Homo sapiens: one gene and its partners. The protein of the gene in region 2 purifies or fractionates together with the protein of the main gene of each other region. This does not show direct contact. Each region holds a gene or a part of one and is shown on either strand. Other genes may lie near its edges.

What was found.
Region 1: the proteins of NUP54 (region 2) and NDE1 purify together in Homo sapiens (affinity purification with mass spectrometry; 2 studies listed by BioGRID and IntAct, with this or other methods). This does not show direct contact.
Region 3: the proteins of NUP54 (region 2) and WDR59 purify together in Homo sapiens (affinity purification with mass spectrometry; 2 studies listed by BioGRID and IntAct, with this or other methods). This does not show direct contact.
Region 4: the proteins of NUP54 (region 2) and LPXN purify together in Homo sapiens (affinity purification with mass spectrometry; 2 studies listed by BioGRID and IntAct, with this or other methods). This does not show direct contact.
Region 5: the proteins of NUP54 (region 2) and STPG4 fractionate together in Homo sapiens (co-fractionation; one large-scale study listed by BioGRID). This does not show direct contact.
Region 6: the proteins of NUP54 (region 2) and CRNN purify together in Homo sapiens (affinity purification with mass spectrometry; 2 studies listed by BioGRID and IntAct, with this or other methods). This does not show direct contact.
Region 7: the proteins of NUP54 (region 2) and CEP250 purify together in Homo sapiens (affinity purification with mass spectrometry; 2 studies listed by BioGRID and IntAct, with this or other methods). This does not show direct contact.

The regions. Positions count from the first base shown.
Region 1 is NC_000016.10:15,656,073-15,660,680, reverse strand, and holds part of NDE1 (nuclear distribution protein nudE homolog 1), read right to left. Parts: intron 1-4,608. UniProt on the Homo sapiens protein: Required for centrosome duplication and formation and function of the mitotic spindle. Essential for the development of the cerebral cortex.
Region 2 is NC_000004.12:76,141,264-76,145,871, reverse strand, and holds part of NUP54 (nucleoporin p54), read left to right. Parts: exon of another isoform or gene 1-317; intron 318-1,398; coding exon 1,399-1,482; intron 1,483-1,579; coding exon 1,580-1,723; intron 1,724-4,608. UniProt on the Homo sapiens protein: Component of the nuclear pore complex, a complex required for the trafficking across the nuclear membrane.
Region 3 is NC_000016.10:74,974,308-74,978,915, reverse strand, and holds part of WDR59 (GATOR2 complex protein WDR59), read left to right. Parts: intron 1-4,608. UniProt on the Homo sapiens protein: As a component of the GATOR2 complex, functions as an activator of the amino acid-sensing branch of the mTORC1 signaling pathway. The GATOR2 complex indirectly activates mTORC1 through the inhibition of the GATOR1 subcomplex.
Region 4 is NC_000011.10:58,528,312-58,531,662, forward strand, and holds part of LPXN (leupaxin), read right to left. Parts: intron 2,214-3,351; coding exon of another isoform or gene 2,119-2,213; exon of another isoform or gene 262-2,118; intron 1-261. UniProt on the Homo sapiens protein: Transcriptional coactivator for androgen receptor (AR) and serum response factor (SRF). Contributes to the regulation of cell adhesion, spreading and cell migration and acts as a negative regulator in integrin-mediated cell adhesion events.
Region 5 is NC_000002.12:47,148,418-47,153,025, reverse strand, and holds part of STPG4 (protein STPG4), read left to right. Parts: intron 1-9; coding exon 10-69; intron 70-1,510; coding exon 1,511-1,768; intron 1,769-4,608. UniProt on the Homo sapiens protein: Maternal factor that plays a role in epigenetic chromatin reprogramming during early development of the zygote.
Region 6 is NC_000001.11:152,408,115-152,411,743, forward strand, and holds the end of CRNN (cornulin), read right to left. Parts: intron 2,830-3,629; coding exon 1,480-2,829; 3' UTR 1,129-1,479; downstream 1-1,128. UniProt on the Homo sapiens protein: Promotes cell proliferation, G1/S cell cycle progression and induces expression of the cell cycle regulator CCND1. Regulates proliferation induced by pro-inflammatory cytokine response via activation of NFKB1 and PI3K/AKT signaling pathways.
Region 7 is NC_000020.11:35,458,320-35,462,927, reverse strand, and holds part of CEP250 (centrosome-associated protein CEP250), read right to left. Parts: 5' UTR 4,554-4,608; intron 2,946-4,553; 5' UTR 2,823-2,945; intron 664-2,822; 5' UTR 561-663; coding exon 375-560; intron 1-374. UniProt on the Homo sapiens protein: Plays an important role in centrosome cohesion during interphase. Recruits CCDC102B to the proximal ends of centrioles. Maintains centrosome cohesion by forming intercentriolar linkages.

The DNA of each region.
Region 1 (4,608 bases), on a different chromosome or scaffold from region 2:
TCTACACAGTGGAGGAGGAAAGACGAAGAACTGAGTGCAGGAGTAACTGGGAGGTGAAAAAGAGGAAAGCGATGGAATTCTGGAGAATTACCTAAAAGACGATGAAATAAATTAGCCAACAGCTAGAGGATGTGGGCGGTAGGGGCCTTGGCTCTCAGGACTTTGAGCTGTTTCACAGCAGAGGTGAGGGAAGCAATTTTTTTTTTAAGAGATAGGGTCTCAATCTGTCAACCCAGCTGGAGTGCAGTGACACAATCATAGCTCACTGCATCTTTGAACTCCTAGGCGGCACTGATCCTCCTGCCTCAGCCTCCTGACTAGCTGGGACTACAGGTATAGGCCACTACGCCAAGCTAATTTTTTTTTTAAGAGATGGGGTCTTACTATGTTGCCTAGGCTGGTCTCAAATTCCTGGGCTCAAGCGATCCTCCTGCCTTGTACTCCCAAAGCACTAGGATTCTAGGTGTGAGCCACCACACCCAGCAAGAAAGCAGACTTCTATTAACAGTTGGGCTAACGGTTTGTATACTCCCTGTTGATAGAGGCTGTTTGATGTAATCACCTATTTTCTGAATTTATTTGAGGCTCTGAGCTTGTCAAAAGGGCATGAGGAATCCAAGTAAGATTGTGTCCAGGCCAGACTCAGTGGCTCGCATCTGTAATCCCAGCACTTTGGGAGGCCGAGGCGGGCAGATCACAAGGTCAGGAGTTTGAGACCAGCCTGGCCAATATGGTGAAACCCCATCTCTACTAAAAATACAAAAATTAGGCGGGCGCAGTGGCAGGTACCTGTAGTCCCAGCTACTCAGGCGGCTAAGGCAGGAGAATTGCTTGAACCCAGGAGGTGGAGGTTGCAATGAGCTGAGATCGTGCCACTGCACTCCAGCCTGAGTGACAGAGCGAGACTCCGTCTCAAAAAAAAAAAAAAAAAAGATTGTGTCCAAGGCCGGGCGCAGTGGCTCACACCTGTAATCCCAGTACTTTGGGAGGCCAGGGCAGGTGAATCACCTGAGCTCAGGAGTCTGAAACCAGCCTGGCCAACACACTGAAACCCCATCTCTACTAAAAATATAAAAATTAGCCGGGCATGGTGGTGTGCGCCTGTAATCCCCACTACTCGGGAGGCTGAGGCGGGAGAATCACTTGAACCCAGAAGGCAGAGGTTGTAGTGAGCCGAGATCGCACCACTGCACTCCAGCCTGGGTGACAGAGTGAGACTTCCTCTCAAAAAAAAAAAAAAAAAAAAAAAAAAAAAGATTGTGTGCAAGGTCCCTTCCTTCCCTCAAGAGAACTTAGAGGCTGGTGTGTATCCCTGGGGACAAAAGAATGAGCAAAAACCATCACTTTCTAAGATATAACCAACAAGCTATATAGTTTTGGTTAAAACATGAAATCATTAGGCTAAACATGTAAGTGTCAACACAGACACCACCACTAACTTCTGGTGGAAGTTAGTGAGCCTCACCCATGTTGAGCCAATGACAGAGGTGGGCCTAATTCATGCAGAACCAGGAAATGCACAATTGTACCTAGATTCAAGCACAAAACTTACCGATAACTCTGCATTTGTTGGGACTCATATTCACATCCTTTCTCCCTCCTACTTTTTCAATCCTTTCCCTCATTCAGAGAAAACATGCTATTTCCCGACCCACTCATCCCTCTGGAAAGCAGATTCTCTGAAAGTTTGATCAAGGCAGAAAGGCGAAATGTCATACAAAGCTGGCCAGACGTGGTGGCTCATGCCTGTAATCTCAACACTTTGGGAAGCTGAGGCAGGCAGATGACTTGAGGTCAAGAGTTCAAGACAAGCTTGGCCAACATGGTAAAATCCTGTCTACACTAAAAGCACAAAAATTAGCTGGGTGTGGTGGCAGGCACCTATGATCCCAACTACTCGGGAGGCTAAGGCATGAGAATCGCTTGAACCCGGGAGCCAGAGGTTGCAGTGAACCACGATCACACCACTGCACTCCAGCCTGGGCAACAGAGCAAGACTCCATTTCAAAAACATATAAACAAAAAATAAATAAATGTCATATAAAGCTAATGATTTGTAGTTTTGCTTGTTTTTTCCAGACATGCATTCATTTTTCCATCTTCTGTGACAGCACAATATTCCCTTGGGAGAATACCCTACTCATTTCATGAGTTCAGAGGGATCTGACATCATCCTCCACACCTGGGAAGAGGCATATGCCTATTCACGACCTTAGTGATCAGCTCATGGGTGGGCCTAACCCACGATGAGCCAGTGACAGAGGTGGGCCTAATTCACGCAGAGCCAATGATAGGGTGAGCCTAACCCCCATGCTCAGCCAGTGACAGTCACGGATCTAACCCATGCTGAGCCAATGATTGGCTTAAGGATGGGCCTAACCCATACTAAGCCAGTGAGGGCCCAGGTCCAGACCTTTTGCATAGCTGTCAAAAATGAAACTCTCTTTCCACTAGGGTTGGTAAGGTAAGCCTGAAGCTGGAGGTAAGCCTGAAGCCGGAGGTAAGCCTGAAACTGCCGGTGGTCATCTTGCTATCACAAGGGAGAGCCTGCCTCAGAGTGAAGCCAAAACAGAGGAAAGCTGGGCCAAGGGATGGAGAGCCTGGGTCCTGACAATATCATTTGAACACCTAGATGCAGCCACACCTGATTTAAGGTTATGAGATAATCAATTCCTTGTCTTGGTTATACCAGTTGGGGTTAGATTTCTGCCACGCAGGAATCTTAATGAATGTATGGAATCAACGACCTTACTTGCTCAAAGTCAAAAGGGTAGAGTGGTGCCTGGCGCAATGGCTCATGCCTGTAATCCCAGCCCTTTGTGAGGCCGAGGCAGACAGATCACTTGAGGTCAGGAGTTTGAGACCAGCCTGGGCAACATGGTGAAACCCCGTGTCTACTAAAAAAACAAAAACAAAAATCAAACGGGCACGGCGGTGCGTGCCTGTAGTCCCAGCTACTCAGAAGGATGAAGCAGGAAAAATCACTTAAGCCTGAGAAGCGGAGGCTGCAGTGAGCCAAGATCACTGCATTCCAGCCTCCCAGCCTGGGCGACAGAACAAGACCCCATCTCAAAAAAATAAAAAGGGGGTAGAGTGTTAATAGCAGTCATTAACAAGGCCAGGAGCAGCATAAACCTAGGCCAAGGAGTCCCTGCTCAAGCCATAAGCTCTAATGAGCCCAGATCTCATGTAATATGTACTCATCAAACCAATTCTATAGCAACAATAGCCCAGGGCCAAGGCATCTATCAATGAGCACTGTGTGGCCATTAAGATATTGGTGGCTGGGTGCGTTGGCTCATGCCTGTAATCCCAACACTTTGGGAAGCCAAGGCGGGTGGTTCACCTGAGGTCAGGAGTTCAAGACCAGCCTGGCCAACATGGTGAAACTCCATTTCCACTAAAAATACAAGAAATTAGCCAGGTGTGGTGGCAGGCTCCTGTAACCCCAGCTACTCGGAAGACTGAGGCAGGAAAATCGCTTGAACCCAGGAGGCGGAGGTTGCAGTGAGCCAAGATCACGCCATTGCACTCCAACCTGGACGACAAGAGTGAAACTCTGCCTCAAAAAAAAAAAACAAAAAAAGACATTGGTGATACTATTGAGGGCAGTCTCAGTCCCATGGTATGGAAGGTTGTCAGCATACAATAAAGTGCGGAAGTGAGGAACCAGTAACAACAAAAGCAGAATGACTCCTCCTGAGGTTTGGAAAAAGATGTGCAAGATCCAATGTGATCAGGCCCCTGCATAGTTTTCTACACATTTCTTACCCTACCACCTCTCATTCACTTATGTCCCAGCCACACTGCCTTCTTTCTCTTCCTTGAACACCCAAGCCTGGCAGGGTGCTGTGGCTCATGCCTGTAATCCTGATACTTTGGGAGGCCACAGCGGGTAGATCACTTGAAGCCAGGAGTTCGAGACCAGCCTGGCCAACATGGTAAAACCCCATCTCTGCTAAAAATACAAAAATTAGCTGGGCATGGTGGCACATGCCTGTAATCCCATCTACTCAGGAGGCTGAAACAGAAGAAACTCTTGAACCCGGGAGGTGGAGGTTCCAGTGAGCAGAGATCCTGCCACTGCACTCCAGCCTGGGTGACAGAGCAAGACTCCATCTCAAAAAAAGAAAAGAGTAATAATAATAATAATAATAATAAAAGAAAAGAGCCTCTTAAAACACTGTTATCTTGGCCAGGAAGGTTTAAAAACTTAATCCTCAGGAAAGAAATGAATCTGAGATGCTTTAGGAGGTGCGTCTATTGTGGGGCAGGTTCTAATTACAACGGGCCAATGGGAGGGATCTGGTTTTGGATTTCAAGGACTGAGGAGAAAATAAGCAGAGAACTGGATTTGTATCACAGCCTGCAAAATCTTTCACTCCAACCAAGAGACAAAAACCACAGGAACAGCATTTCAACCAAAAACTCTTACATTTTAAAAGCAATCCTTAGGGAAGAGAGATGCTGGAAGCAAAGAAGGAAGAAGTAACAGCTGCACTTCACTTTATCATAAAACAGCAATCTTTTTTTTTCTTTTTCTTTATTATTATTATACTTTAAGTTTTAGGGTACATGTGCACAATGTGCAGGTTAGTTACATATGTA
Region 2 (4,608 bases):
TTTTCCAAATCAGAATGAGGTGATTAATATAAAATGGTTGCATGTTTTTCTTCTTGTATTTTCTATATTGCAATATTGATGAATCTGTGTTGTATACCAGAAATAAATGAGATTAAAGGAAGATTCCAAAAAATCTGCAATATAATTCGACACTAATGGTTCAAACATTTGTCTTGAAAGGCTTTTTGATACCACATTGGTAATCAGCTGAAGACTGACAATAAGTTACAAAAATAACAAAACAATTTTAGATTGGCTAGCATTCCATTTATCTGTCAAATCTCTTCCTTCAAGAAACACATTCTTGTTGTTTGGAGGTAAGTATATTGGTATGCTTCCTTTGAAAAGTTACTTAGTCTTGACAGAGACTAAGTAGAAATATAAGTTAATTTAGACATAAATTAATTCACCAAAACCAAGGTTGCTAACTGGCAACAAGTCTGCCAATGTGATATGTTTGGCATGCTGTTTTCAAAACATTTGAATTCCTTGCAAAAAAAAGTAGTTGAATTAGGGTTTAAAAACCAATAAATTTTTTTTTTTTTTTTTTTTTTGAGACGGAGTCTCACCCTGTCGCCCGGGCTGGAGTACAGTGGCAAGATCTTGGCTCACTGCAAGCTCCACCTCCCGGGTCCACGCCATTCTCCTGCCTCAGCCTCCTGAGTAGCTGGGACTACAGGCGCCCGCCGCCACGCCCGGCTAATTTTTTGTATTTTTAGTAGACACGGGGTTTCACCGTGTTAGCCAGGATGGTCTCGATCTCCTGACCTTGTGATCCACCCCCCTCGGCCTCCCAAAGTGCTGGGATTACAGGCATGAGCCACCGCGCCCAGCCAAAAACCAATAAATTTTACATAGAAAATCCAGATTTCCTGTTTCTCTTGGGGTAAAAAATGGGAATATGTGACACTGCTAAACTACCTTTCTTGTATCTGCTGGAATTTAGGAACTGCTGATCTAAAAAACTATTCATTTTAAACAGTTCCACCTATCAGTAAACACATAGTCTACTTTACTCTTTACTGTTATCAGTCTAAATCTTCTAGGCATATGAATTTGCAACACCTCCTCTAAAAGTACATACATAGTCATTTTAGAATTATGGCAATAGGCTTAATGTGTTTTCTCAGCTGTAACTGTTAACCACCCCTTTAATTGAAGGGTATATATTACATTGTGATATTTCTATTTTAAATGCTTAGTTCATTTCTTGTAACATTTTGACTTCTTGATTGGTAGTATAGTTTTTTAAAAAATTGATCTTGAAAGTAGGGAAAGGAAAAATTAGATCAATATATTTTGATTTTATATGTAGCAATTATAAAATAATTTTAAAAAGAAGTTGCCTTTATATATACAAAAGATTCTTCCTTTCTATTTTTGTTCTTTTTTAATTAGGTGGGTTTGGAGGATTTGGGACAACATCTACAACTGCAGGTTCTGCATTCAGCTTTTCTGCCCCAACTAACACAGGCACTACTGGTAAGAGGCCATCTTAAGTCATTCATAGAAGTAAATGAAGTAGAGGTCAGATTTTTTTTTTTTTTTAACTTACGAAGTTCCAATTTTTCATTCAAAGGACTCTTTGGTGGTACTCAGAACAAAGGTTTTGGATTTGGTACTGGTTTTGGCACAACAACGGGAACTAGTACTGGTTTAGGTACTGGTTTGGGAACTGGACTGGGATTTGGAGGATTTAATACACAGCAGCAGCAGCAAACTAGTAAGTATGAGGTTTTCAGCTTCAAATACAAAACCGTGATGATACTAGCTGACATTATTGAGTGCATTCAGAATACTTTAGTGGACTTTTTATAAGAATTATTAATATATTCCAAAGGATTAGGAATGTTACTTTTCATGTTTAAATATGATAGCAACTGGGGAGAACACTGATTGGCACAGTTAGGATTATAAGGTCCCTGTGTTTAGGATCATTCCATTTAAATTTTTGTTGTTAAAAATAACAAATAGAGAAACTGCACAAAAGTACAGCTTAATGAATTATATATAAGTTTACAAAGGTTAACACCCTTGTAATCACTGCCCATGTCAGGAGATGGTTCCTGGCCAGCCAGTTCAGAAGCCTACCACATTTCCCTACCAATTGCTTCCCCATCAGAGGACCTGCAGTCTTGGCTTTTATGGTGATCATTTTCTTACTTTATATTTTGTCATTCAAGTATGTAAACAGTATTTGGTTTTGCCTGTCTTAAATCTCCATAGGCTCCTCTTTTATCTCTCTTTTTTATTTATTTTTTATTTTTTGAGACGGAGTCTTGCTCTGTCGCCCAGGCTGGAGTGCAGTGGCACGACCTCGGCTCACTGCAACCTCCGCCTCCCAGGTTCAAGCGATACTTCTGCCTCAGCCTCCTGAGTAGCTGGGACTACAGGCGCACACCACCACGCCCAGCTAATTTTTGTATTTTTAGTAGAGACGGAGTTTTACCATATTGGCCAGGCTGGTCTGGAACTCCTGACCTCGTGATCTGCCTGCCTCGGCCTCCCAAAGTGCTGGGATTACAGGTGTGCGCCACCGCGCCTGGCCTCTCTTTTTTATTTTTTAATTTGTTGAAGAAAACAGATCATTTATCCTATAGAGTTTTTTAGTCAAGACTTTTCTGATTGCACGCCTATGGTATAGTTTAACACATTCCTTTGTTCTCTGTATTTCTTGATGATTGGGTTAGATCTGGGGCGTACATATATATATTTTGTTGTTTTGTTGTTTGTTTGCAAGACTATTTTATAGGCCTATTTTTTATCAGAAGACATATAATATCTTTTTTTTTTGAGTGATCAGCCATTGAGCCATTGGTGATCATTACCTAGATCCATTAATTCATTAGGGGTTACAAATAGTGCCATTCCACCTGGATTCATTTATTTGTTGAAATACTTCTGTGAGGAGAAACTTGACTTCATCTGTTTGGTTGATTCTTTCTCTTTATTACTGGTTTTCAGAATAAAGAGTTGGTTATCTAGCATTCTCCAAAGATGACCAATTTTTTTTTAATGTCAGAAACTGCAGCCTTTAAACTAGTTACTATTTTTTAATCCATTGCAGTTACCATTCTTATTGATGCTTAAATTGTTACATCTTTGGCCAGTGCAAGCCTTTTCAAGTTGGCTCCCAAGTCCCTTTGAGACAGTCTGGTTATTAGTCTTTGATGGCTTCCTTACTAACCATCCTTACTAGGTGGTATGGCAGTAGGTTCCAGGGGTTGTTCTGTATGGATTAACTTATTCTCACAAGAACCCTGTGAAATAATACTTTTGTTATCCCCATTTTATGGGTGAAGAGAGGAACCTGAGAGATTGTGACTTACCTGTATACCTCTCTAGAAGAAGTACAGGGATGCAAATTCAACTACTCATTCTAGTGCTCTTTTCACTTTTCCAATCTGATGCCTCTTAAAATTACTTCTGTTTCATTTTTTTAAGTAACTTGATTGACTAGCTAAAATTCATCCTACTCAGTCACTGAAGATTAGTTATTAACTTATTAAACATGAATTTCAAGGATTGCCTAACAGTAGGATGAAGATAATAGAATAGTATTCTCAGAATTATTCTTTCAAGTATTCCAGTCATTCGTCTTTTCTACAATCCTGCAAAAATACAAAATTTGATGAAATATTTAAGTAGTTAAGGAAAGAACAGCAAAAGTGAAGTGTTTCCTTTGTTTCTTGAAATAAAGTCTCTCCAACTATGAGTAACTGTAGTTACATTTGGTTTTTTTAGGAAAATGGGAATTTGAATCTGGTGCTATTTTAAAATTGAAAGGGGCTCATTTTGTTATGTAATATCCATTTATTGTATATATCGTATGTCAGGCATTGGGTGTACAAGGTTGAAGACCACAATCCTTGCTCATAGTCAAGGAGATTCTAGGGTATCCACGCAGAGGAAATAACATGGCATGGTTTATGGCAGAGTATAATGCCTTTGGGACCAGTATAACTAGATCAGTGCAGTTTTTTTAATGCATAAATGACCTCAGGGTCAGTAGTGAGAGTTGGAGAGATAGATATGAATTGGATTATTAGCGTGCCTTATATGTTTTACTAAGGAGCTGTCCTTTAAGCAATTCTAAACTGTTGTAGGATTAAGTAGACAGGAAAATAATCAGATTTTTAGAAGTATCTCTTAGAGAAATACAAAGATAGATTATAGGTGGGTTGGAATGGAGGCAGAGATCTGGTGAAGCTGTTGCCAAAATCTGAGCAAGATATAGTGAAGACCTGAATTAAGGCAGTGACAGTTAAGAATGGAGAGAAAAAACAGGATGTGAATTTGAGAGAGATTTAACTTGTAGAATCAATAAAAGCGAATGACTGGATAAAGGTATCTTGGGCTTCTGGGTGGCGTAACTGAAGGATCCCTTGCTCTTCACTAAGATCCAGAATACTAAAGCAAGAGCAGATGTTTGTGGGTAGATAATGAGTTTGAGGTGTCCCTTGGGTAGTTGTATATATTTATGAAAGCCATCAGAACGTAAGTAGTATTTAAAGTGGTAGATATGGATGATGTAATTTAGGAGACCTGATTCCAGAGTAAGAGGAGAGTACTAGAACAAAACTCTTAGAAACACTAACACTTAAATGC
Region 3 (4,608 bases), on a different chromosome or scaffold from region 2:
CCCACGGTGGCTGCCTACTTCGTGTCTCCACTTCAGGATCTGCGAGAAAATCAAGCTCTGTATGTCCAAAGCAGCTGAACATACTTGGAGACAACTCTTCCCTCACAGTAGCATTTCCTTCTTCCATTTTATCTTCCATATAGCCAGAGTGATTAAAAAAAAAAAATCCAGGTTTATGCAGGTATAATTGTAGAGTTTGTTGGGTTTTGACAAATGGATGTAGTCATGTAACCACTGCCGTAATCATGATGTAGAACGTTTCCATCACTCCAAACAGTTCCTTGGTCCCCCTGTGTACTCAATCTCCATCCCTTATCTCTGGCAGCTGCTGATGGGATTTCTATAACAAATGGAATCATGTGATATGATGTGTAGCCTTTTGAGTCTGGCTTTCATTTTTGTTTTGTTTTGTTTTGTTTTTTGAAGGGACAGAATCTTTCTCAGTTGCCCAGGCTGGAGTGCAGTTGCACAGTCCTTGCTGAGTGCAGCCTCCAGCTCCTGGGCTCAAGTGTCCTCCCATCTCAGCCTCCTGAATAACTGAGTCGACAGGCATATGCCACCAGGCCTGGCTCTTTTTTTTTTTTTTTTTTTTTTTGAGACAGAGTCTCACTCTGTCACCAGGCTGGAGTGCAGTCGCACGATCTCGGCTCACCGTAACCTCTGCCTCCTGAGTTCAAGCGATTCTCTGCCTCAGCCTCCTGAGTAGCTGGGATTACAGGAGCCCATCACCACGCCTGGCTAACCATCTTTGCCAGGCTGGTCTTGAACTCCTGACCTCACGATCCACCCACCTTGGCCTCCCAAAGTGCTGGGATTACAGGCGTGAGCCACTGTGCCTGGCCAGTCCTGGGTAATTTTTAAAAATTTTTTGTGGGGGTGGAATCTGGCTGTTGATGCCCAGGCTGGTCTTGAACTCCTGGCCTCACACAGCCCTCCCACCTTGGCCTCCCAAAGTTTTGGGATTACAGGCATGAGCCACCACCCTACCTGGCGTCTTTTGCTTAGCCTAGTGCTTTTGAGATTCATTCTTGTTGTTGAGCCTATCTGTTAGTGCATTCCTTCTTCTTGCTGAGTAGTGTTCCAGTATATAGACTGCAATTTGTGTATTCATTCACCTGTTTATGGACATTTAGTTTTTTTCCAGTTTTTAGTGACTGAAGAAAGCTGCTATAAGTAGATAAGTATCAAGGCCAATTTTTATTTATTGATTTATTTATTTTTCTTTTTTGAGACAGAATCTTGCTCTGTTATCTACGCTGGAGTGCAGTGGCACGATCTCAGCTCACTGCAAGCTCCGCCTCCCGGGTTCACGCCATTCTCCTGCCTTAGCTTCCCGAGTGGCTGGGACTACATGCGCCCGCCACCACACCCTGCTATTTTTTTGTAGTTTTGGTAGAGATGGAGTTTCACCGTGTTAGTCAGGATGGTCTCGATCTCCTGACATCGTGATCTGCCCGCCTCGGCCTCCCAAAGTGCTGGGATTACAGACGCGAGCCACCGCGCCCGGCTGCATTGTCTCTTTCTTATAGATTAAGAAGAGTGTAAAAATTTTTCTGGATTCCAGTTCTGTATGGTTATATATATTGTAAATCCATTCTCCCAAGTTGTAGCTTGCCTTTTCATTCTTTTTATGGTATTAAAAATTTTTTTTTAATTTAAATTAAAATTTTTTTTTTGAGATGCGATCTCGCTGTTACTGTGGCTGGAGTGCCTATTCACAGTCACGATCATGGTGCACTGCCTCCTTGAACTCCTGGTCTCAAATGATCCTCCTGGTTCTGCCTCCCAAGTAACTGTGTCTGTATTTGTGAGTTACCACTCCCAGCTATGTGCTGTCTTTTGATGAACAGAACTTTAATTTTAATGCAGTTAAATTTATGGATTATGCTTTTTCAGTCTTGTTGTTTTTGTTTTCAGACAGGGTCTCGCAATGTCGCCCAGGCTGGAGTGCCGTGATTTTGAATCAGTGCAACCTCTGCCTCCTGGGCTCAAATGATCCTCCTGCCTTGGCCTCTTAAGTAGTTGGAAATGCAGGCACACACCACCAGGCCGGGCTAATGTTTGTATTTTTTATAGAGCCATGTTGGCCAGGCTGGTCTCGAACTCCTGGGCTCAAATGATCCACCTACCATGGCCTCCCAAATTCTTTTTAAGTCTTCTTAAGAAAAATGTTTAGGCCGGGCTTGGTCGCTCACACCTGTAATCCCAGCACTTTGGGAGGCCAAGGTGGGCGGATCACAAGGTCAGAAGATCGAGACCATCCTGGCTAACACAGTGAAACCCTGTCTCTACTAAAAATACAGAAAATTAGCCAGGTGTGGTGGTGGGCACCTGTAGTCCCAGCTACTCAGGAGGCTGAGGCAGGAGAATCGCTCGAACCCAAAAGGTGGAGGTTCAGGGAGCCAAGATTGCGCCCTTGGACTCCAGCCTGGGCGACAGGGTAAGGCTGCGTCTCAAAAGAAAAAAAAAAAAAAAGAAAAGAAAAAGAAAAACGTTCGTATCCTAGATTCATAAAGAAATTCCTCAATATTTTCTTTTATCTTGAAATTGAAAATGAATCATCTCAGCAGAAAGTATACTCTCTTCTGACCTAATAATGGTTGGTGATTTATTAGTCTCAGCATTGCAACAGCTTTGCCACAAAGATAAAGATTGAGGACTGTGTTTTACTCTAATAAAAACTAAAATAAAAAAGCACAACTCAAATTATTTGGCTAGGAGCAAAATTATAAGTAATTAATAATCTGTGTGTTTTTCTGGAGCAATCCAGCTTCGGTTCCTACTTTTTTAGTTTCATACAATGTTCATTTTGAAAAACTATAGAGATGGAGGGGCAGAATAGGACTTTTTGGTGTAAGTGACTATTAATATGTATACTGTGAAATATTTTTTCTTTTTTAAATAAATTTATATATGTGTATTTTAACATCGAGATGGGGGTCTCACTGTGTTGCCCAGGCTGGTGTCAAACTCCTGAGTTTAAGTGATCCTCCCACCTTAGCCTCCCAAAGTGCTGTGATCACAGGCATGAGCCACTGCACCTGGCCTATTTTTTTTTTCTAGAAAATTTAATATAAAGATGTGGTGATGAATGGGAGAAGAACAAAGACGTTAAGGATTTCGTGCCAGACTGTGTTAAGATTTAGGTTATGCCACCTGTCTTCCATGTGATCTTGGGCAAGTTACTTCCTTTCTAAGCTTCAGTTTTCTTTTTTAAATTTTTTTTTCTTTTTTTTACTTTTTTTTTTTTTGAGACGGAGTTTCACTCTTGTTGCCCAGACTGGAGTGCAGTGGCATGATCTCGGCTCAGTGCATCCTCCACCTCCCAGGTTCAAGCAATTCTCCTGCCTCAGCCTCCCAAGTAGCTGGGATTACAGGCGCCTGCCATCATGTCCGGCTAATTTTTTGTATTTTTAGTAGAGACGGGGTTTTACCATGTTGGCCAGGCTAGTCTCAAACTCCTGACCTTAGGTGATCCACCCGTCTTGGCCTCCCAAAGTGCTGGAATTACAGGCATAAGCCACTGTGCCCAGCCTTGTTTTTTTTTGTTGTTTTTTGAGACAGAGTATTGCTGTCTCCCAGGCTGGAGTGCAGTGGCGCGATATAGGCTCACTGCATTCTCCAACTCCTGGGTTCAAGCGATTCTCCTGTCTCAGCCTCCCGAGTAGCTGGAATTACAGGTGTGTGCTGCCATGCCTGGCTAATTTTTGTATTTTTAGTAGAGACGAGGTATCGCCATGTTGGCCAGGCTGGTCTTGAACTCCTGACCTCAGGTGATCCACCGACCTTGGCATCCCAAGGTGCTGGGATTACAGGTGTGAGCCTCTGCGCCCGACTGACTTCCTTCATTCATAAAACAAGGATAGTAGTGCCTACTTGTGTTGGGGGTTCCCCAGGCCATGCCAGGCTCAGTGACTTATAAGGAGGCTTCACAGTCATATTTGCAGTCATTACATATTACAGCAAAAGGACACAATGCAGAATCAAAGGGAAAAGGCAAATGGCATGAGGTCAGAAGGAAACCAGGCCGAAGCTTCCCAGAGTCCCCTCACTGTAGACGCACACAGTATATGCTTAATTCCTTTCGTGTGTAACTGGAACAATGTGTGAGAGACATTGTGTACCAAGGAAGTTCATTAGGGACTCAGTACCCACAATTTCTATTTAGGGCTGGTCATGTAGGCACCGTCTGCCTTAACAGGTACCAAAATTCCAGACCTTCAGAAGGAAAGTAGGCACTCAGCGTAAACTACGTCGTTTGTACATACAGTTGAGGCACAGGGAGGCTCTCTTACTAGTTAAGGAGCAGTGGAACCCTCCTAAAATCCACGTTCTAGATAGCAGCCAAGAGCCACCCTTGCAAGCAGGCCTCGCAAGGATAGTAGTAGCCTCATGCCCGCTGTGCCAACTCTTTTCTGCATACTACCTTGTAGACTAGCTGTGAGGATTAAATGACAATATCAGTTTGGAACACCTAGCGTAGTGGTCGGTATATGTTAAGCAGTTGATAAATGTTGATTACCATTATTATTAAATTAGAAAACTGGCCTAAGGAAGCAACACACTTGGCCTGACAAAATAGCCCTCTCCTCTGCCCTGTCATTTTGC
Region 4 (3,351 bases), on a different chromosome or scaffold from region 2:
ACCTAATTCAAAGGGTAGTTGTAAGAAATAAATGAGATAATGCAGAGGAAGTGTTTTGGCATTGTGTCTGGTTCATAGTAAACATTTAATAAGTGTTAGGGGCTATTGCTCCTCAGTGCCTTTGTACTAAGTATTCCCTTGGCTTGGATAGTTCTGTCCCAGAGCCTGATATAGTTGTCCTCTTCATGTGATGCAAGAATCACTCAAATATCATCTTATCAGAGAGGCATCTCTTCAGTCCCTCCTTGTCACATCATCTTCTTTCACCGTCTTTATGGCATTTACCTTTATTTAAAATCATCTTTGTGGGCTGTCTCCCCTTACAGGAACATTAGCTCTGAGAGAAACTAGATATTGTTGATCTTGTCACCATTATATCTCTAATATCTAAAACAGCATCTGGGAAGAAAAAAAGCATCTGATATTTTAAAATAAAATACTACTAAATAATAATTTCCAGATGGATGCAAGATCTAAACACAATGACTCATACCATATATTTGAATTAAAAATAGATGTATTCCTCCTTTTTTTATTTTTTGTGTGGGTATATTATTTTTATTGTTTACCAGCAGTGTATGAAAATCCCAATTATTCCTCAGTCTTTACATCACTTGATATATCCATATATTTCCTTTTTAATCAATCAAATGGATGTTATCTATCTATACAATGTTATCTCATGGTAGTTTTGATTTGTATTTCCCGAAAGGCTAATGATACTTAGGGTTTTTTTAATGTGTGCATTTGCATTTCATATCTTGTCATTAATGATGTATTCCTCTTTAATCTGGAAACAGAAAAACTGTCATAAATAAAGCCCAAATTCCAAAAGCAAGTTAAATATTAATAAATTTAGCTACATAAAAATATATCTGAATGACTTACACATGTCAAAAAATCACCATAAACAAAGACAAATAACAATCTGAAGAAAATATTTGCTAATTATATTCCACTCCTGAGTATATGTATGGTTTCAACTATTGTTGTACATAATTAAAAAGTGAAAAAATTGGCCGGGCACGGTGGCTTGCACCTGTAATCCCAGCACTTTGGGAGGCCGAGGCGGGTGGATCACGAGGTCAGGAGATCGAGACCATCCTGGCTAACACGGTGAAACCCCGTCTCTACTAAAAATACAAAAAATTAGCCAGGTGTGGTGGCGAGCGCCTGTAGTCCCAGCTACTTGGGAGGCTGAGGCAGGAGAATGGCGTAAACCCGGGAGGCAGAGCTTGCAGTGAGCCGAGATCGCACCACTGCACTCCAGCCTGGGAGATAGTGAGACTCTGTCTCAAAAAAAAAAAAAAAAAGTAAAAAAATTAAAATGGAAAAACATGAATCCCTAAAAAATTGAATCAAATTGAAGAAAATTAACTGTATATCAAACTGATGACATGAGCAATAAAATAAATAATTTGGAGATTGCTGGCAGGATGACCGAATAGGAACAGCTCAGGTCTGCAGCTTCCAGTGAGATCGATGCAGAAGGCAGGTGATTTCTGCATTTCCAACTGAGGTAACCGGTTCATCTCATTGAGACTGATCGGACAGTGGGTGCAGCCCATTGAGGGCAAGCCGAAAAAGGGTGGGGTGTTGCCTCACCCAGAAAGCACAAGGGGTCAGGGAACTCCCTCTCCTAACAAAGAGAAGCCATTAGAAACTGTGCCGTGAGGAACAGTGCACTCCGGCCCAGATACTGTGCTTTTCCCATAGTCTTCACAAACCGCAGACCTGGAGATTCCCTCTTGTGCCTACGCCACCAGGGCCCTGGGTTTCAAGCACAAAACTGGGCGGCTGTATGGGCAAACACTGAGCTAGCTTTAGAAGTTTTTTTGTTTTTTGTTTTTCATAACCTAGATGCACCTGGAATGCCAGCGAGACAGAACTGTTCACTCCCCTGGAAAGGGGGCTTAAGCCAGGGAGCCAAGTGGCCTGGCTCGGTAGGTCCCACCCCCATGGAGCCCAGCAAGCTAAGATCCACTGGCTTGAAATTCTTACTGCCAGCACAGCAGTCTGAGCTCGACCTGGGATACTAGAATTTGGTGGAGGGAGAAGCATCCACCATTGCTGAGGCTTGAGCAGGTGGTTTTACCTTCACAGTGTAAACAAAGCCACTCAGAAGATCAAACTGGGTGGAGCCAACCGCAGCTCAGCAAGGCTGCTGTGGCTAGACTGCCTCTCTAGATTCCTCTTTTCTGGGCAGGCCATCTCTGAAAAGAAAAAGGCAGCAGCTCCAGTCAGGGGCTTATAGATAAAACCCCCATCTCCCTGGGACAGAGCACCCAGGGGAAGGGGTGGCTGTGGGCACAGCTTCAGTAGACTTAAACATCCCTGCCTGACAGCTCTGAAGAGAGCAGTGGATCTCCCAGCACAGGGTTCGAGCTCTGCTAAGGGTCAGACTGCCTCCTTGAGTGGGTCTGTGGCCCCCGTGTCTCCTGATTGGGAGACACCTCCCAATAGGGGCTAACTGACACCTCATACAGGAGAGCTCTGGCTGGCATCTGGTGGGTGCCCTGCTGGGATGAAGCTTCCAAAGGAAGGAACAGGCAGCAATCTTTGCTGTTCTGCAGCCTCTGCTGCTAATACCCAGGCAAACAGGGTCTGGAGTCGACCTCCAGCAAACTCCCGTGGACTTGTAGCAGAGGAGCCTGACTGTTAGAAGGAAAACTAACAAACAGAAAGGAATAGCATCAACATCAACAGAAAGGACATCCACTCAGACACTCCATCTGAAGGTCACCAACTTCAAAGACCAAACGTAGAAACACTCAAGAAGATGGGGAGAAACCAATGCAAAAAGGGTGAAAATCCCAAAAACCAGAATGCCTCTTCTCCAAAGGATCACAACTCCTCAACACCAAGGGAACAAAACTGGATGAAGAATGAGTCTGACGAACTGATAGAAGTAGGCTTCAGAAGGTGGGTAATAACAAACTCCTCCGAGCTTTATAAAGGAGCATGTTCTAACCCAATGCAAGGAAGCTAAGAACCTTGAAAACAGGTTAGACAAATTGCTAACTAGAATAACCAGTTTAGAGAAGAACATACATGACCTGATGGAGCTGAAAAATATAGCACAAGAACTTTGTGAAGCATACACAAGTATCAATAGCTGAATTGATCAAGCAGAAGAAAGGATATAAGAGATTGAAGGTCAACTTAATGAAATAAAGCAAGAGGACAAGATTAGAGAAAAAAGAATGAAAAGGAATGAATAAAGCCTCCAAGAAATATGGGACTATGTGAAAAAAACAAATCTACGTTTGACTGGTGTACCTGAAAGTTATGGGGAGAATGGAACCAAGCTGAAAAACACTCTTCAGGATATTATCCAGGAGAACTTCCTCA
Region 5 (4,608 bases), on a different chromosome or scaffold from region 2:
TGTTAACAGAAACCAGCCCAAAAGACTTCCTCTTTTGAAAGAGAAGGATGGTGGAGAATAGCATTAACAGTATGTACATTGTTCAGTCTTTCCTATTCACATTATTCCTATTCCATTAATATTTTAATCAATTATAGCTTTTAAGACTAACACTAAATTGTAAGAAAACAGTGATTGTTCAGATCTGCATGGACCTCATGTCATACTTAAAATTTTAGTGTCAGCATATGAATAAGAAACTAACTTTTAATTTTGAATGCAATAGAAGCTTGGGAAAGTTAAACAATTCTAGAAATCTAGGTGCTTTACAGAATATCTAGATAAGGCTAACCTATGCTCTTATGATCTGGGTGAGATTGCAAAACAAAAAAAGCATACATTCTGGAAAGGTGTTTTGGTTTCAGTTTTTATCTTATATGGTAAAGACCTTCTGCAAATGGTTCTTAATATGGTCAATATATGAAAGCAAAATGGTAATATATGGAAGAAAAATGACCAGAAGATCCCCCTCACCAGAGAGTTTCTATATTACAGACATATTTTCTGTCAATGCCCTTCAATAATAGAGGGACTTCATGGGTCAAAGCCTTCTTGGAATTGCAGTAATTTTAAAGGCAGAACTGAGCTGAGTGCTCAGTGGAAAGATGGCCACAAAAGCAGCAGTGACTAAACGTTCAATTCTGGCCATTCAGCCACACTGGTTGTAATTTGAAAGTACCAAACCTCTTATTGGACTAACTAGGCCATATGCTCTGCCAGTTTATCCTGGTGTCATGTCATTATCCTTCAGCTTCCCACTTGAGGGCTAGAGAGAAACATCCTACATTGGCTAAGCAGATGTAGGATAGCTTCTAGTTAGCCAAGAGACTATCCTGAGTGGTCTCACTAGAGGTCTGAAATTCATAGTCAAGCTTGAATCCCAAAGTTGAATCACCGAAGTTGCCTTTTAAAAACTTAAATTTCGGCCGGGCCTGGTGGCTCACGCCTGTAATCCCAGCACTTTGGGATGCCAAGGCGGGCGGATCACAAGGTCAGGAGATCTAGACCATCCTGGCTAACACAGTGAAACCCTGTCTCTACTAAAAATACAAAAAAAAAAAAAAAAACAAAACAAAAAACTAGCCGGGCGTAGTGGCTGATGCCTGTAGTCCCAGCTACTTGGGAGGCTGAGGCAGGAGAATGGCATGAACCTGGGAGGCGGAGCTTGCAGTGAGCCTAGATTGTGCCACTGCACTCCAGCCTGGGTGACAGAGTGGGACTCTGTCTCAAAAAAAAAAAAAAGTTAAATTTCAACTCTAACCCGTTTGCTTTAATTCAGCAATTATTTCAGAAAGGAAATAATCATGATTTTGAAATACTCTTCTGTCAAGAGTGTTTACTGTATTTGATATAATTTCATTAAACTTGAAAACAAAGAGAGATGTTACTTGGGAGCTTCCCATCCAAGAATGGTGTTTTAGGAGAAGTTACATGTTTACACAATCTTAAAACTGATGTCAATTTTCCACAGGATACTCCTATACCTGGCACTTACCACTTGAAAACTTTTATTGAAGAATCCCTATTAAATCCAGTGATAGCAACCTACAATTTTAAAAACGAAGGAAGGAAAAAGCCACCTCTTGTGCAAAGAAACAATCCAGTCCTAAATGATCTTCCGCAGTATATGCCTCCTGACTTCCTGGACCTGTTAAAGAAGCAAGTGGCTACTTACTCATTCAAAGACAAACCACGGCCAAGCCCCAGCACACTAGTTGACAAAGATCAGGTAAAGCGCTACTGGCAGATTGCTTTGTGTGGGAAAGCTACTAAGAGCCCCTGAGGAAAGTATTTTTATACGTAGAGTATATCTTCCCCCAGGAGAAATGGAAAACCTTTAAGATGTCTTATTTCCCGTAGAAATCAAACAAGGACTGCCTGATTTGCAAATGTTTCCAGTAAGATTTTTCCCTATAACATCTTCTTAACCTAAGGGGAGTACATGGGGAGAAATGTTTTCCTCTTGGGCAACTCTTGGTGGGATTCCCCTAGCCTGGAGAGCACCTGGGATCTTATCTGTCATTGGGCTATGCTCTTATCTCTTCAAGCAGTATATGTGGTGAACCCTCTTCTTTTAAAGAGAAAACCCTGCCTCTCGGGGAGTATCCTTATTAGAGCATAAATATAACTACATACCACAGGGAAGCTTTTAAAAACTTTTCTTATAGAAATGACCCATCTCTACAAAAAATAAAGAAAAATAGCCGGGTGTAGTAGTGCATGCCTGTGGTCCCAACTACTCTGGAAGCTGAGGTGGGAGGATCACTTGAGGCCAGGTGTTGTAGATCAGCCCGGGCAATATAACAAGCCCTCAACTCTTTAAAAAAAAAAAAAAAATAGCTACTTGGGAAGCCAGGGCAGGAGGATCCCTTGAGCCTGGGAGTTTGAGGCTGCAGTGAGCTATGATTATATGACTGTACCCCAGCCTGGGTGACAGAGTGACATGCTGTCTCTAAAAATATTTTTTTTAATTAAAAAAAAAAAGAAAAGAAGTGAGCATGTGGTCCCAGGAGGGTCAGCTTCTACTCTCAGCTCCACCAGTTCATTTGTAGCATTGATAATAAAGAGCACTACTGAGCTCACAGCCCTGCACTAGGCTCTGCGGAAGGAAGATGTTCCTGACCCAGAGGTATTTAAGCAACAATACAGGACAGAGTTTATCAAGTGCTCAGATAAATAGTGGAGCTGGAAATGCCAAAGGAGAGTTCAAGTGCCAAAGGAGGCTGGATTAAAAGGCTGGAAAGCTCCGTGGCTTACGTAGAACTTAACTGGACCTTCACTAATACATGTCTTTTATGTGGCTCTTAATGGTTTACTATGGGCTTCCATGTATATTCTCTTAGTTGCTTCCTTCTTAAGCATTCTGAAATAGAACAGATATTAACTCCATTTTACATGCAAGAAAACTAAGGTGAGTAGAGACTAAATAACTTGTCCAAAGGCACATTGCTAATACTTAAGTAGGTGAAGCAGCACTTTTTACTGAGGGCTTCTGCACCAAAATTTAGTCCTCTTTCCAGTCTACCATGTGCCCCTCGCCTTGAATGAGGGGCAGGGTTTGGGTAGATGGAATCCAAAGGAGGTATTCCGAGGGAGGAGTACAGCATTGTTGAAGGCATGGAAGTGGCAGGAACGTGGTCTGTTCAAGGGATAAGAGTTGTGACTTGGACTTTGTTACTTGGGACTTTGGGTACTTGTCTCAGTTCTCTCTGCATTAATATTTCCCATTTATAAATAAGCTAATAACAGTATCAATCTTCATAACTTCATCAGAATATTATTGTGATAACCTGAGAGAAATGTATTGCAGCTGAAGGTTGAATTAAGTACAAGGGGTTGTAATTACTAAAGTGGACACAAAATTTTCAGCAGGATGAACACATGTCAAATCCAAACTTTCTACTACTTTACAAATTGTAGCTTTGAAACAGAACAGAATGATAAGTGTTCATTAGGTATATCTTATCCTGTTTGCTTCAGTGGATGCATACAAACTCTAAATTATACTAGCACCTTTATGGCTTGCTACCAGATAACCAGGCTATGTGTGAAATTGTTCTGGCTATCTCAAATGCAAAGTCTTTCTTACTCTCTTCTGCCATTTTCTTTTCTGCTTCCTCTCTTCTCGCTTTTACAAGTCCCTGAAAATCAGCCAAAGGCCCAGTGTTGAAAGGAGAAAACGTACAAGGATGGAGTTACACAATACTTAAAGTTTTTAAAGACCAAAAGAATTAGGCTTACTCGGAAGGATGGATAAAACCTTCTGAAAACATAGTTTTTCTGTTTCTTTCTTCTTTCCTCTCCACCTCCCACAAAGGATTAAACTCTAGAAACTGGAAAAATTCAGTGTTTTTCTAATTTTCTATTTCAAAGATATATATATTCACAAGGGGAAACATAAACATTGTTTAGTCACCAGTAAAATTCAAAATTCTGTTTTAATAGCAGAACTCAGAATACTTTGAATTTGGGGTAGATATAGTATGTATTATTGTTATACATTAAGCTAGAATAGCATTCTCAAATTTTATAATTTTTCACAGAATATTCATTTTATATCTTTCAGTGGCTGCTTTTTATTTGTAATAAAGTTTTCAGGAATACTATGCAGCCATAAAAAAGGATGAGTTCATGTCTTTTGTAGGGACATGGATGAAGCTGGAAACCATCATTCTCAGTAAACTATCGCAAGGACAAAAAACCAAACACCACATGTTCTCACTCATAGGTGGGAACTGAACAATGAGAACACTTGGACACAGGAAGGGGAACATCACACACAGGAGCCTGTCGTGGAGTTGGGGGAGTGGAGAGGGATAGCATTAGGAGATATACCTAATGTAAATGACGAGTTCACGGGTGCAGCACACCAACATGGCACATGTATACATATGTAACAAACCTGCACATTGTGCACATGTACCCTAGAACTTAAAGTATAATAATATAAATAAATAAATAAATAAAGTTTTCACTATTTTTAGTATCTTTATTCTGAGGCATGTAACTCAACTCGAGAATCTGTATTGGAGAGACTTTCTATTTTTTTTTCAACTTTTATTTTAGATT
Region 6 (3,629 bases), on a different chromosome or scaffold from region 2:
AGCCTACGTGTTGTTTTTGTTTGGTTGTTGTTTATTCCACATTTTGTTTTTTCCTTAGCGATTTCCCTTACTTCCTGTAAACCAGTAACACAGTGAAAAAAATGCTTTATGCAGGATCTAGTTATTTTGTCTTGGGAAATCTTTCAGATTATCTAGTCTTCTGTACTGACAAAAGCACAAGACCCCCAAGAAGTTTCTAAACAATATTAATTGGCTCCAAACCTTAGAACCAGCATCTGTAGGGTTAGGTTTATACATTTTTTTTTTTTTGAGATGGAGTCTTGCTCTGTTGCCCAGGCTGGAGTGCAGTGGCACAATCTCGGCTCACTACAACCTCTGCCTCCTGGGTTCAAGCAATTCTCCTGCCTCAGCCTCCTGAGTAACTGGGATTACAGGCATGTGCCACCATGCCCAGCTAATTTTTATATTTTTAGTGGAGGTGGGGTTTCACCTTGTTGGCCAGGCTGGTCTTGAACTCCTGGCCTCAGGTGATCCGCCCACCTAGGCCTCCCAAAATGCAGGGATTACAGGTGTGAGCCACCACGCCCGTCCCTATAAATCTTTATTTTAAAACTGTTCTTCTGGTCACTCTTAAAATAAACCAGAATTGATAGTCTCTACCCCATAACATGGTTTATATCTGGTGGGTGAGACATCATGAGAGGTCAGAGCTGACACTGAGGGGGAGGTAGGAAGGGAAGCACAAAATTCTGGCCCCTGGCTCAGTACCTGGTAACACAAGCTTTCTCGCTCTTTCCCTACACAGCCACTGGGGGCCTTCTTCCATTTCTTGGTAATCTTAAATCAGCTTTCCTGTGTGACCTTACAGGTGAATAGCGGTTTAACGCTATAGAATTAGAGGTAGTGAAAGACCAAGAGGAATTTTGCCTATCTATCTAAATACTAATTGTCTTTTCAGGGCCATCATAAAGAAAGCGCCTTTTGTATGAAACCTTTGCTGGTCCATCTCTGCCAAGTATTAAGTATGATATATAGCAGGAATCTCATATAATATTTTCTCAACTAGTTGCTCTTCAAAGGTAGGGACTATGTCCAGTTCATCATCTCATAACTCTACAGCCTTTGGCCTGTAATATCAATAGAAGGTGGTTGAATGAGACACAGAGGCCAGTGGCTTAAGGTTTTATTGATGCATTAGGGTAGATGGGGCAATAGAGAGATGTCAGAGATAAAAATAGTCCTGAAACCCCCCACAAGATGAGGACAATTCAGTACAAAGGGGTGACTTGCTCTGAGTCTTCCTGCTCCTGAGAGGGTCTGCACCGCAAAGCAGGTAAGAAAGAAGAGTTCAGGATAGAAAGCTCCTTGCAGAAATTATCTCATTGAGAAAGACCTAAAAGGGAAGCTGCATAATGAAGAGCTGATGTCCAGGGATGCACCCACTGGATTGGCCATGCAGGACAAGCCAAACTCTCTCCAGCTGTCTTCTTCCAGTACTGGACATTGGAGTCGGGGAAGTCATGGCTTGGTGCTTCTCAAGTAGGAATACAGCTCTCTAGCTGTGATGCCTCGCTTCTCTTCTGACTGGGCTGCATCCTGGCCCTGTGCTGAGGAAACACTGGTATGCAAGTTGCCCTGGTCCAGCCTGAGGATCACTGTCTCCCTTGAGTGGTCATCAACCCATTCCTCACCAACCACTGTGGGCTGTCTGTCTCCCTGCCCTTCTGTCACACAGCGCCTTGGGTGAGTGCTGCTCCACTCCTGCCTTCCTGACTCAGTGCTTGCCCCAGTCTGGGCCTGTCCTCCCGGTACTGTCTCTCCTGCCTCAGGGTTGCTCACTTGCATCCATCTTTGACCACTGCCTGGCTGCGTCTGGGTCTGTCCCTGTTCTCTAGCCCCTCCGTGGCTTACAGTTTGGCTTCTGTCCTGCTCCACAGTCTCGGTGTGTGACCCTGCCTGTATCTGAGTGTGTCCTCCTGTCACAGCCTGGCTGGTCTGGCTCCTGCCTTGACCGTGGATCTCAGTCCCTCTGTTCTGGCCATTGGTGGACTCCTGTGTCTGGGTGCTGGTGCTTCCTGTCTGGTGGCTGCTGTCCTGCTCCACGGTCTGGGTGGGTGTCTGGGTGTGTGTCCCTGCCTGTATCTGAGCATGTCCTCCTGTCACAGCCTGGCTGGTCTGGCTCCTGCCTTGACCGTGGGTCTCAGTCCCTCTGTTCTGGTCATTGGTGGCCTCCTGTGTCTGCTTGCTGGTTCTTCCTGTCTGGTGGCTGCTGTCCTGCTCCACAGTCTGGGTGGCACCTGCCTGGGTCTGAGTTCCAGATCCAGTCACAGTCTCACCTGTCTGGTGGGCTCTGTCCTGTTCCCTGGTCTGTGGCTGTCTCTCTGGCCTCATCTCTGTTGTCTGATTCCTCTTGCCTTCTCCAGCTTTCTGGGTCTGCTCTGTCTGCCCAGAGAGTTGTATCTGCGGGCTTATTCTTTCCTGGCTCTGGGACTCAGCTTGCCTGTCATAGCTGCTGACCCACGCAGAGCCAGTGGCCTGACCCTGGGTCTGAACCCCAGGCCTGTTCTGCCCTCTGGAACCCTGCTGGCTCTGTCTGTGGCTGCTCCCCTCATAATGCTGCCCTTTCCCCGCCCTTCCCACTTCAGTGCCACTTCTCTGTCCTTCGCCCAGCTCCTGCGAGGCCCCAGAGTGGAGGCTTCCAGACTCTTGAGAGCCGCAGGCTCCCTCAGCACTCTCGCTCAGTGTCTTGAAACAGGCCTGGGCAACTTTAAACACTAAGACCAGGAATTCCTTGAATTCCACAGTCCCTGTGTGGTCTTCATCCAGCAGACGCAGGACCTCATCCACAGTTGCTGGATCGTGGGGTTTCTGAGGAGAAGATGAGGTGGAGTCAGCATCCCTCCCCTGAGGAGGACATGGGCAGGTCCCTTCCAATCTGCTGCCAGCTTCCCCTGCCTCAGACCCCACACTACACACACATACGGCTAGAGCAGCAGCAAGACTTAATTGCCTTTATTTTTTTTTAGTCCCGTCTCTCTCCCTCAAGTGTAGAGAGCATTTTTTGTTTGGTAGCCTCTATTTGGCACAATTTCTGGGCTACAGGAAAATTAGATAAAGATTTATTGAAGAGTTAATAAATTATTGAATTCACAATGCAACTGTTTGGGCTCTCAAGTTGACTGTCTGGGCTGCCCTTGGCACCTTGCCCCTGGCACTGAGGCCTTAGTCTCTTCAGCAGGCCCAGCACAAAGAGCAGCAGGTTGGGAACACAGCCCCATGGGAATTCTGTGCGCTCCTCATTGAGGCCCAGATGTTTCCCCATGATAAAGAGGGAGGGAAGCAGTGGGCCCCTGCAGCGCTGCCCTGAGCATGTGGATGCAGCATCCTTCTGTGCCCATATGTCCTTGTCCCTAAGGCCATCATCATCCTGGTTGCTTTAGATGCAAACCAAAGACAGGAAAGTGCATCAAGGCCTTGGTTCTGGTTTGCCAGGTGGGGTGGGGTGAGGCTCCAAAGTCTCCCCCTAGCTATTAACAACCTGCTCTTCAAAATTTCATTTCTGATGTGATCAGTCTGCTAATATTTTTGAGTAACTGCTTCGTGCAAGCCCAGAGCTATGCTTCTAATGAATGTCTATGAATGGATGATTACATTTCAGATAGACGTGG
Region 7 (4,608 bases), on a different chromosome or scaffold from region 2:
TAGCCAAAAGTGGTGGTGTACACCTGTGGTCCCAGATACTCCAGAGGCTGAGGCAGGAGGACTGCCTGAGCCCAGGAGGTTGAGGCTGCAGCGATCTGTGATCATACCACTGCACTCTAGCCTGGGCAACAGAGCAAAACCCTATCTCAAAAATAAAATTAAATTAAAAGGATATAATACGTACCTCATGGAGCAGTTGTGAGCATCAAAAGAGAAGCTGTACATGAAAGCTAGAAGGTCTGGGTCTTATCTCACCATGCTAGATGTAGGCCACTCCCACCACAAGACTCTGCCTCCTGCAACCCTTATCTCACCTCAGCACCTAGCTCTGGGGGTTGTTCTCTTTCCCCTCCCCAAAAGGGCAGCTGCCTCACCTTGGCCTGCAGCTTCCTCACAAGGGTTGCTTGTCTCTGCTGGGCCTCCTGGGAGTTCTTCAGCTTCCGCCAGGAGGCTGCCTGATTCTCTGCCATCTGCTGCTGTAGTGCCAGCACCTGCTCTTCCAGTACCAGCTGCAGTGACTGGGGCTTCATGTTGTTCAACCCAGGGCTTCTTGTCTCCATGAGGGCACCAGGTGGTAGGCCCACAGGTCCCTAGGTAGCCAGAGGGTGTTCACGCCCAGCAGGGTCTCTAACCATTGCCATGCCACTTCAACCTCCTCTTGAACTGGGGACCAAAGCACATAGTCAAATGGAAAGGACTGTTCTTTTACTACACACAAGACTCCTCAGAACCTTTAAAATACTAAAAGGGACCCTCATCTCTGAAGGGCGCTATGATGAGCATCATTCCCCAAATTTAACTGACCATGAGACAAGCTCACAGGACTAGTGTCTCCTGGCATGACTTTTGGAACTCTGCACTAAACCAAGAGCTCCTGGTTTATCACTGCATCCTTAGTTCCTGGCACAGTGGTTCAGAAACATTTGTTGAATGAATCGCTGAAGGTGTTCTTAGTCTAGCAGGGGAAATAGACACAAACTATTACAATACATACAATGTAGCATGTGAAATAATAAGATAATATGAGAAAACAAAGGAAGAGAACCCAGCCTGGGAGCCTGTGAACTGTGTGAATCATCATCATCATTGTTAACACTTGCTGAGTGCTTCTGGAGGGCTGTTGCTTTAAGTGCTTTACATGCATTACGTCATTTTGTTTTTACAAAAATCTTGAAACCTTCCAATGCCTTCTCATTACACTTCACCAAACGTACTATTATAACTCTTTATATATAGATGAGGAAACTGGGGCTTAGAAAGGTTAAAAAACTTGTGCCAGGCCACACAGCTGGCATATGGTTGAGAGAGATTTGAACACAAGTAGTCTATCTGACAAAGAAAAGGGGTAGCAGGCATTTCAGGCAAAGGATCCAAAAGAGAGAAGGAACCAGTGGCAGCAGGATGGCCAAACCCCCTCACCCACCAGGAGCTGGGCCAAAACAGGGCAATGGGCCACCACAGGCAGAGGCGGCCAGCCTAACGGTGACCTTCATCAGAGATACCCAGGACAGGGGAAGGCATGGTGGTAAAGAGTTCTGGGTGTTAGTCCAAGCTCTGCCTCCAATGGGCTCTGTGACCTCAGATGTGCTACTTCCCTCATCCAGAAATGAGGGTATCATGACCTCTGAGTTACTTAGGCCTCTAAAACACACAATTATCCCATAACCTGGGCCAGAGGAAGAGTTCTCTCATTTTATTAACCCTAAGACTCTCACCAGCAGGGCTAAGGAATATCCGTATTTTCAACTACCTATCAACAAAATGGTATATACAGCGAATGCAAACCTAACATTTGCACATACAGTAGAAATTTCAAGGGCCCCAAATCCCTTTAATGCACCAAACTATTGATTTCCCACATCCTGGCTCAAATGCCACGTCCTATCATGTCCTCCCAGATGAACCCAGGAAGAGTTAGTCACTTTTATAGCTATATACACAGAGAGAATACATATGTTCTGATGTCTACTCTACATCTTATCATCATTACTTGTCTATTTTCTCTGCTAATCCATGAGTACCTCAAAGGCAGGAGCTGTCTAATTCATTTTAATTGTAACTTGTCAACAATGTCCAGTGAAGAAATGCATGTGAGCCTCACTCCTGGCAGAGCTAAGCCATAAGCCAGAGATGACAAATCAGTGCCCTGCTAGCTCTTTTCAGCCATTGTGTGGCCCACATAATAGTTTTTAAGAATTCAAATTAGGTGCCAACATTTATCATTGGGAGAATGTACATAAAATCCATATTTCTGGCTCCTTTGGAAAATCAGAATACCCAGTGATGCTTGACCCATATTTCAATAAGGCAACAACCAGCTGCACAGTTGAATAGTGCCTGCCCGTTTAGACAGGGCACGCGCTCCGTGCAGTTGAACAGCGCCTGTCTCCTTTAGACAGGGCGTGTGCTCTGCACAGTTGTATAGTGCCTGCCCCCTTTAGACAGGGCATGTGCTCTCCAGTTCATCATGGCCTCCCCTATGCACACACCGATTCTCTCCCTCACAATGATAGCATATTTCAGTTGTCATTTATCATTGCAACTGTGCTATTGTTTCTGTTATAGTAGCATTAAAGAGGAAAACTCGGCTTACTAATTTACATTACCTCCTGAACAACCGAAGATACTTGAGTTTGCAGAGCCTGTACTAGGCAGTAAGGAAAGTGCATAAAGTAGGGAGAATAGAATGGCACCAATAAAGGTTTGGTGGCACCAGTACTCCAGGCCTCTTCCTAGCCTACGAACCAGGGGAATACAACCTTTCCCCATACTATTACACCCTCCTTTTCAGCCTTTTTGCCAAGGCTGTGTGACCAACTCACCATGGTGCTATGAAATGTTGGCTCTGTTGAGTTCAATGAAGCTCAATCCCTCTCTGCTGGTTGGAGGCACAGATCTTCCAGGAAACTATTCTCTTATCCCAGGATTTCTGCCAACAACTCTACCTACAATAATGTAGATCCAAGTTACTCCAAGGGAACTGAGGAGCCTTTTCTCTCCTAGTATGGTGAGGGCTGAGCCGGGCTTTTGCATGCAGTGGGAGTTTATGAGGTCTCAAAGGCCCCCTCACACTTTGTTGAATCCCTATCCCAAAACATTAGGTTGAACCATATGAAATTGCTAATATTATCCTATTATTATTATTATTTTTAGAGAAAGGATCTAGCTCTGTCACCCAGGCTGGAGTACAGTGGTGCAATCATAGCTCACCGCAGCCTCAAATTCCTGGGCTGAAGGGATCCTCCAGCCTCACCCTTCAGAGGAGCTGAAGATGTGTGCCACCGAGGCTTTTTTTTTTTTTCTTTGGTAGAGACAAGGTTTTGCCATGTTGCCTAAGCTTGTCTCGAACTCCTGGTTTCAGACAGCCACCCCCTGGTCCAAGCCTCCCAAAGCAATGGCATTATAGGTGTGAGCCACCAAGCCCAGCCTCACTCATTACTTTTTATCTACAAAAATGGCAATTTCACATCATTCAACCTAATATCTCTAATAAGCAGTCCTGCCACACATAGTTCCATGAATTCTCATTAAGTTTTCTTTTAGGATATGGCTGTCAGTAACTTGCAAACATGATTTGGCAAGGTGGTATTAGTAATACTTAAGCAAATAAAGAAAATTATATTACAATTATATAATTATTTTACTTTAGCAGATAATTAAAAAATTTTAAAGCTATTTAGAAATTTAGTCCACCCCCCTCATCTTGCAGATAAGGAAACTGAGGCTTGTAGAGATAAAGCAACTTCATTTTGTTTATATTTTTATATGCCCCACTTATCTCAAAAAATGATTTGCATGGCCAGGCACAGTGGCTCACACCTGTAATCCCAGCACTTTGGGAGGCTGAGGCAGGCGGATCACTTGAGGTCAGGAGTTCGAGACCAGCCTGGCCAACACTGTCCAGCCTGGGCGACAAGAGCAAGGCTCCATCTCAAAAAAAAAAAAAAAAAAAAAAAAAAAAGATTTGCATTATAGCAAATATACCATACTAAAAGGGGAGACTGGGTGCAAGGTATACAGGAACTCTCTGTACTATGCAATTTTTCTGTAACCCTAAAATTGTTGTAAAAAATAGTTTTAAAAAATGATTTAAAGTTTTTTAAAACCAAAACAATCCTCATAAAACTAAAATTTATTAAAACAAGAATAAAAGAGAAGAGACAGAGAAAAATTATCTCAGGAATCTTTCTGAAATTCAGATTTCATTCTGAGCTTCCTCAAGACACAGTTCAGCATCCTTTTACAAACACACTGCCAGATCAGATCTGCTAGGAATAAACTAGCAGAGCCCCCAAAGGGAAAGTAAATTTCAATGTGCCTGAGAAAGGGAAAAGAGCAGTAGCTGGCAAACTAACAAATTGGATTACATCTAAATAAGATAATGAGTGTCAGTGTACTTCTAAGCTGTAAACCACTGAGCCAATGTTATCATTACTGCAGGAAAAAGGGAAAGATTCATTTCTTTTGTACATTAATTTATCCCATAAACACTCATGAATTTCAACTCAGTATCAGGAGTCTGCCACAGTGGTACAGAAATGAACAAGACCTACCTTCCTACTTTTGCTAAGGATCAGACAGGGAAGACAGCACCCTTACTAAAGACCA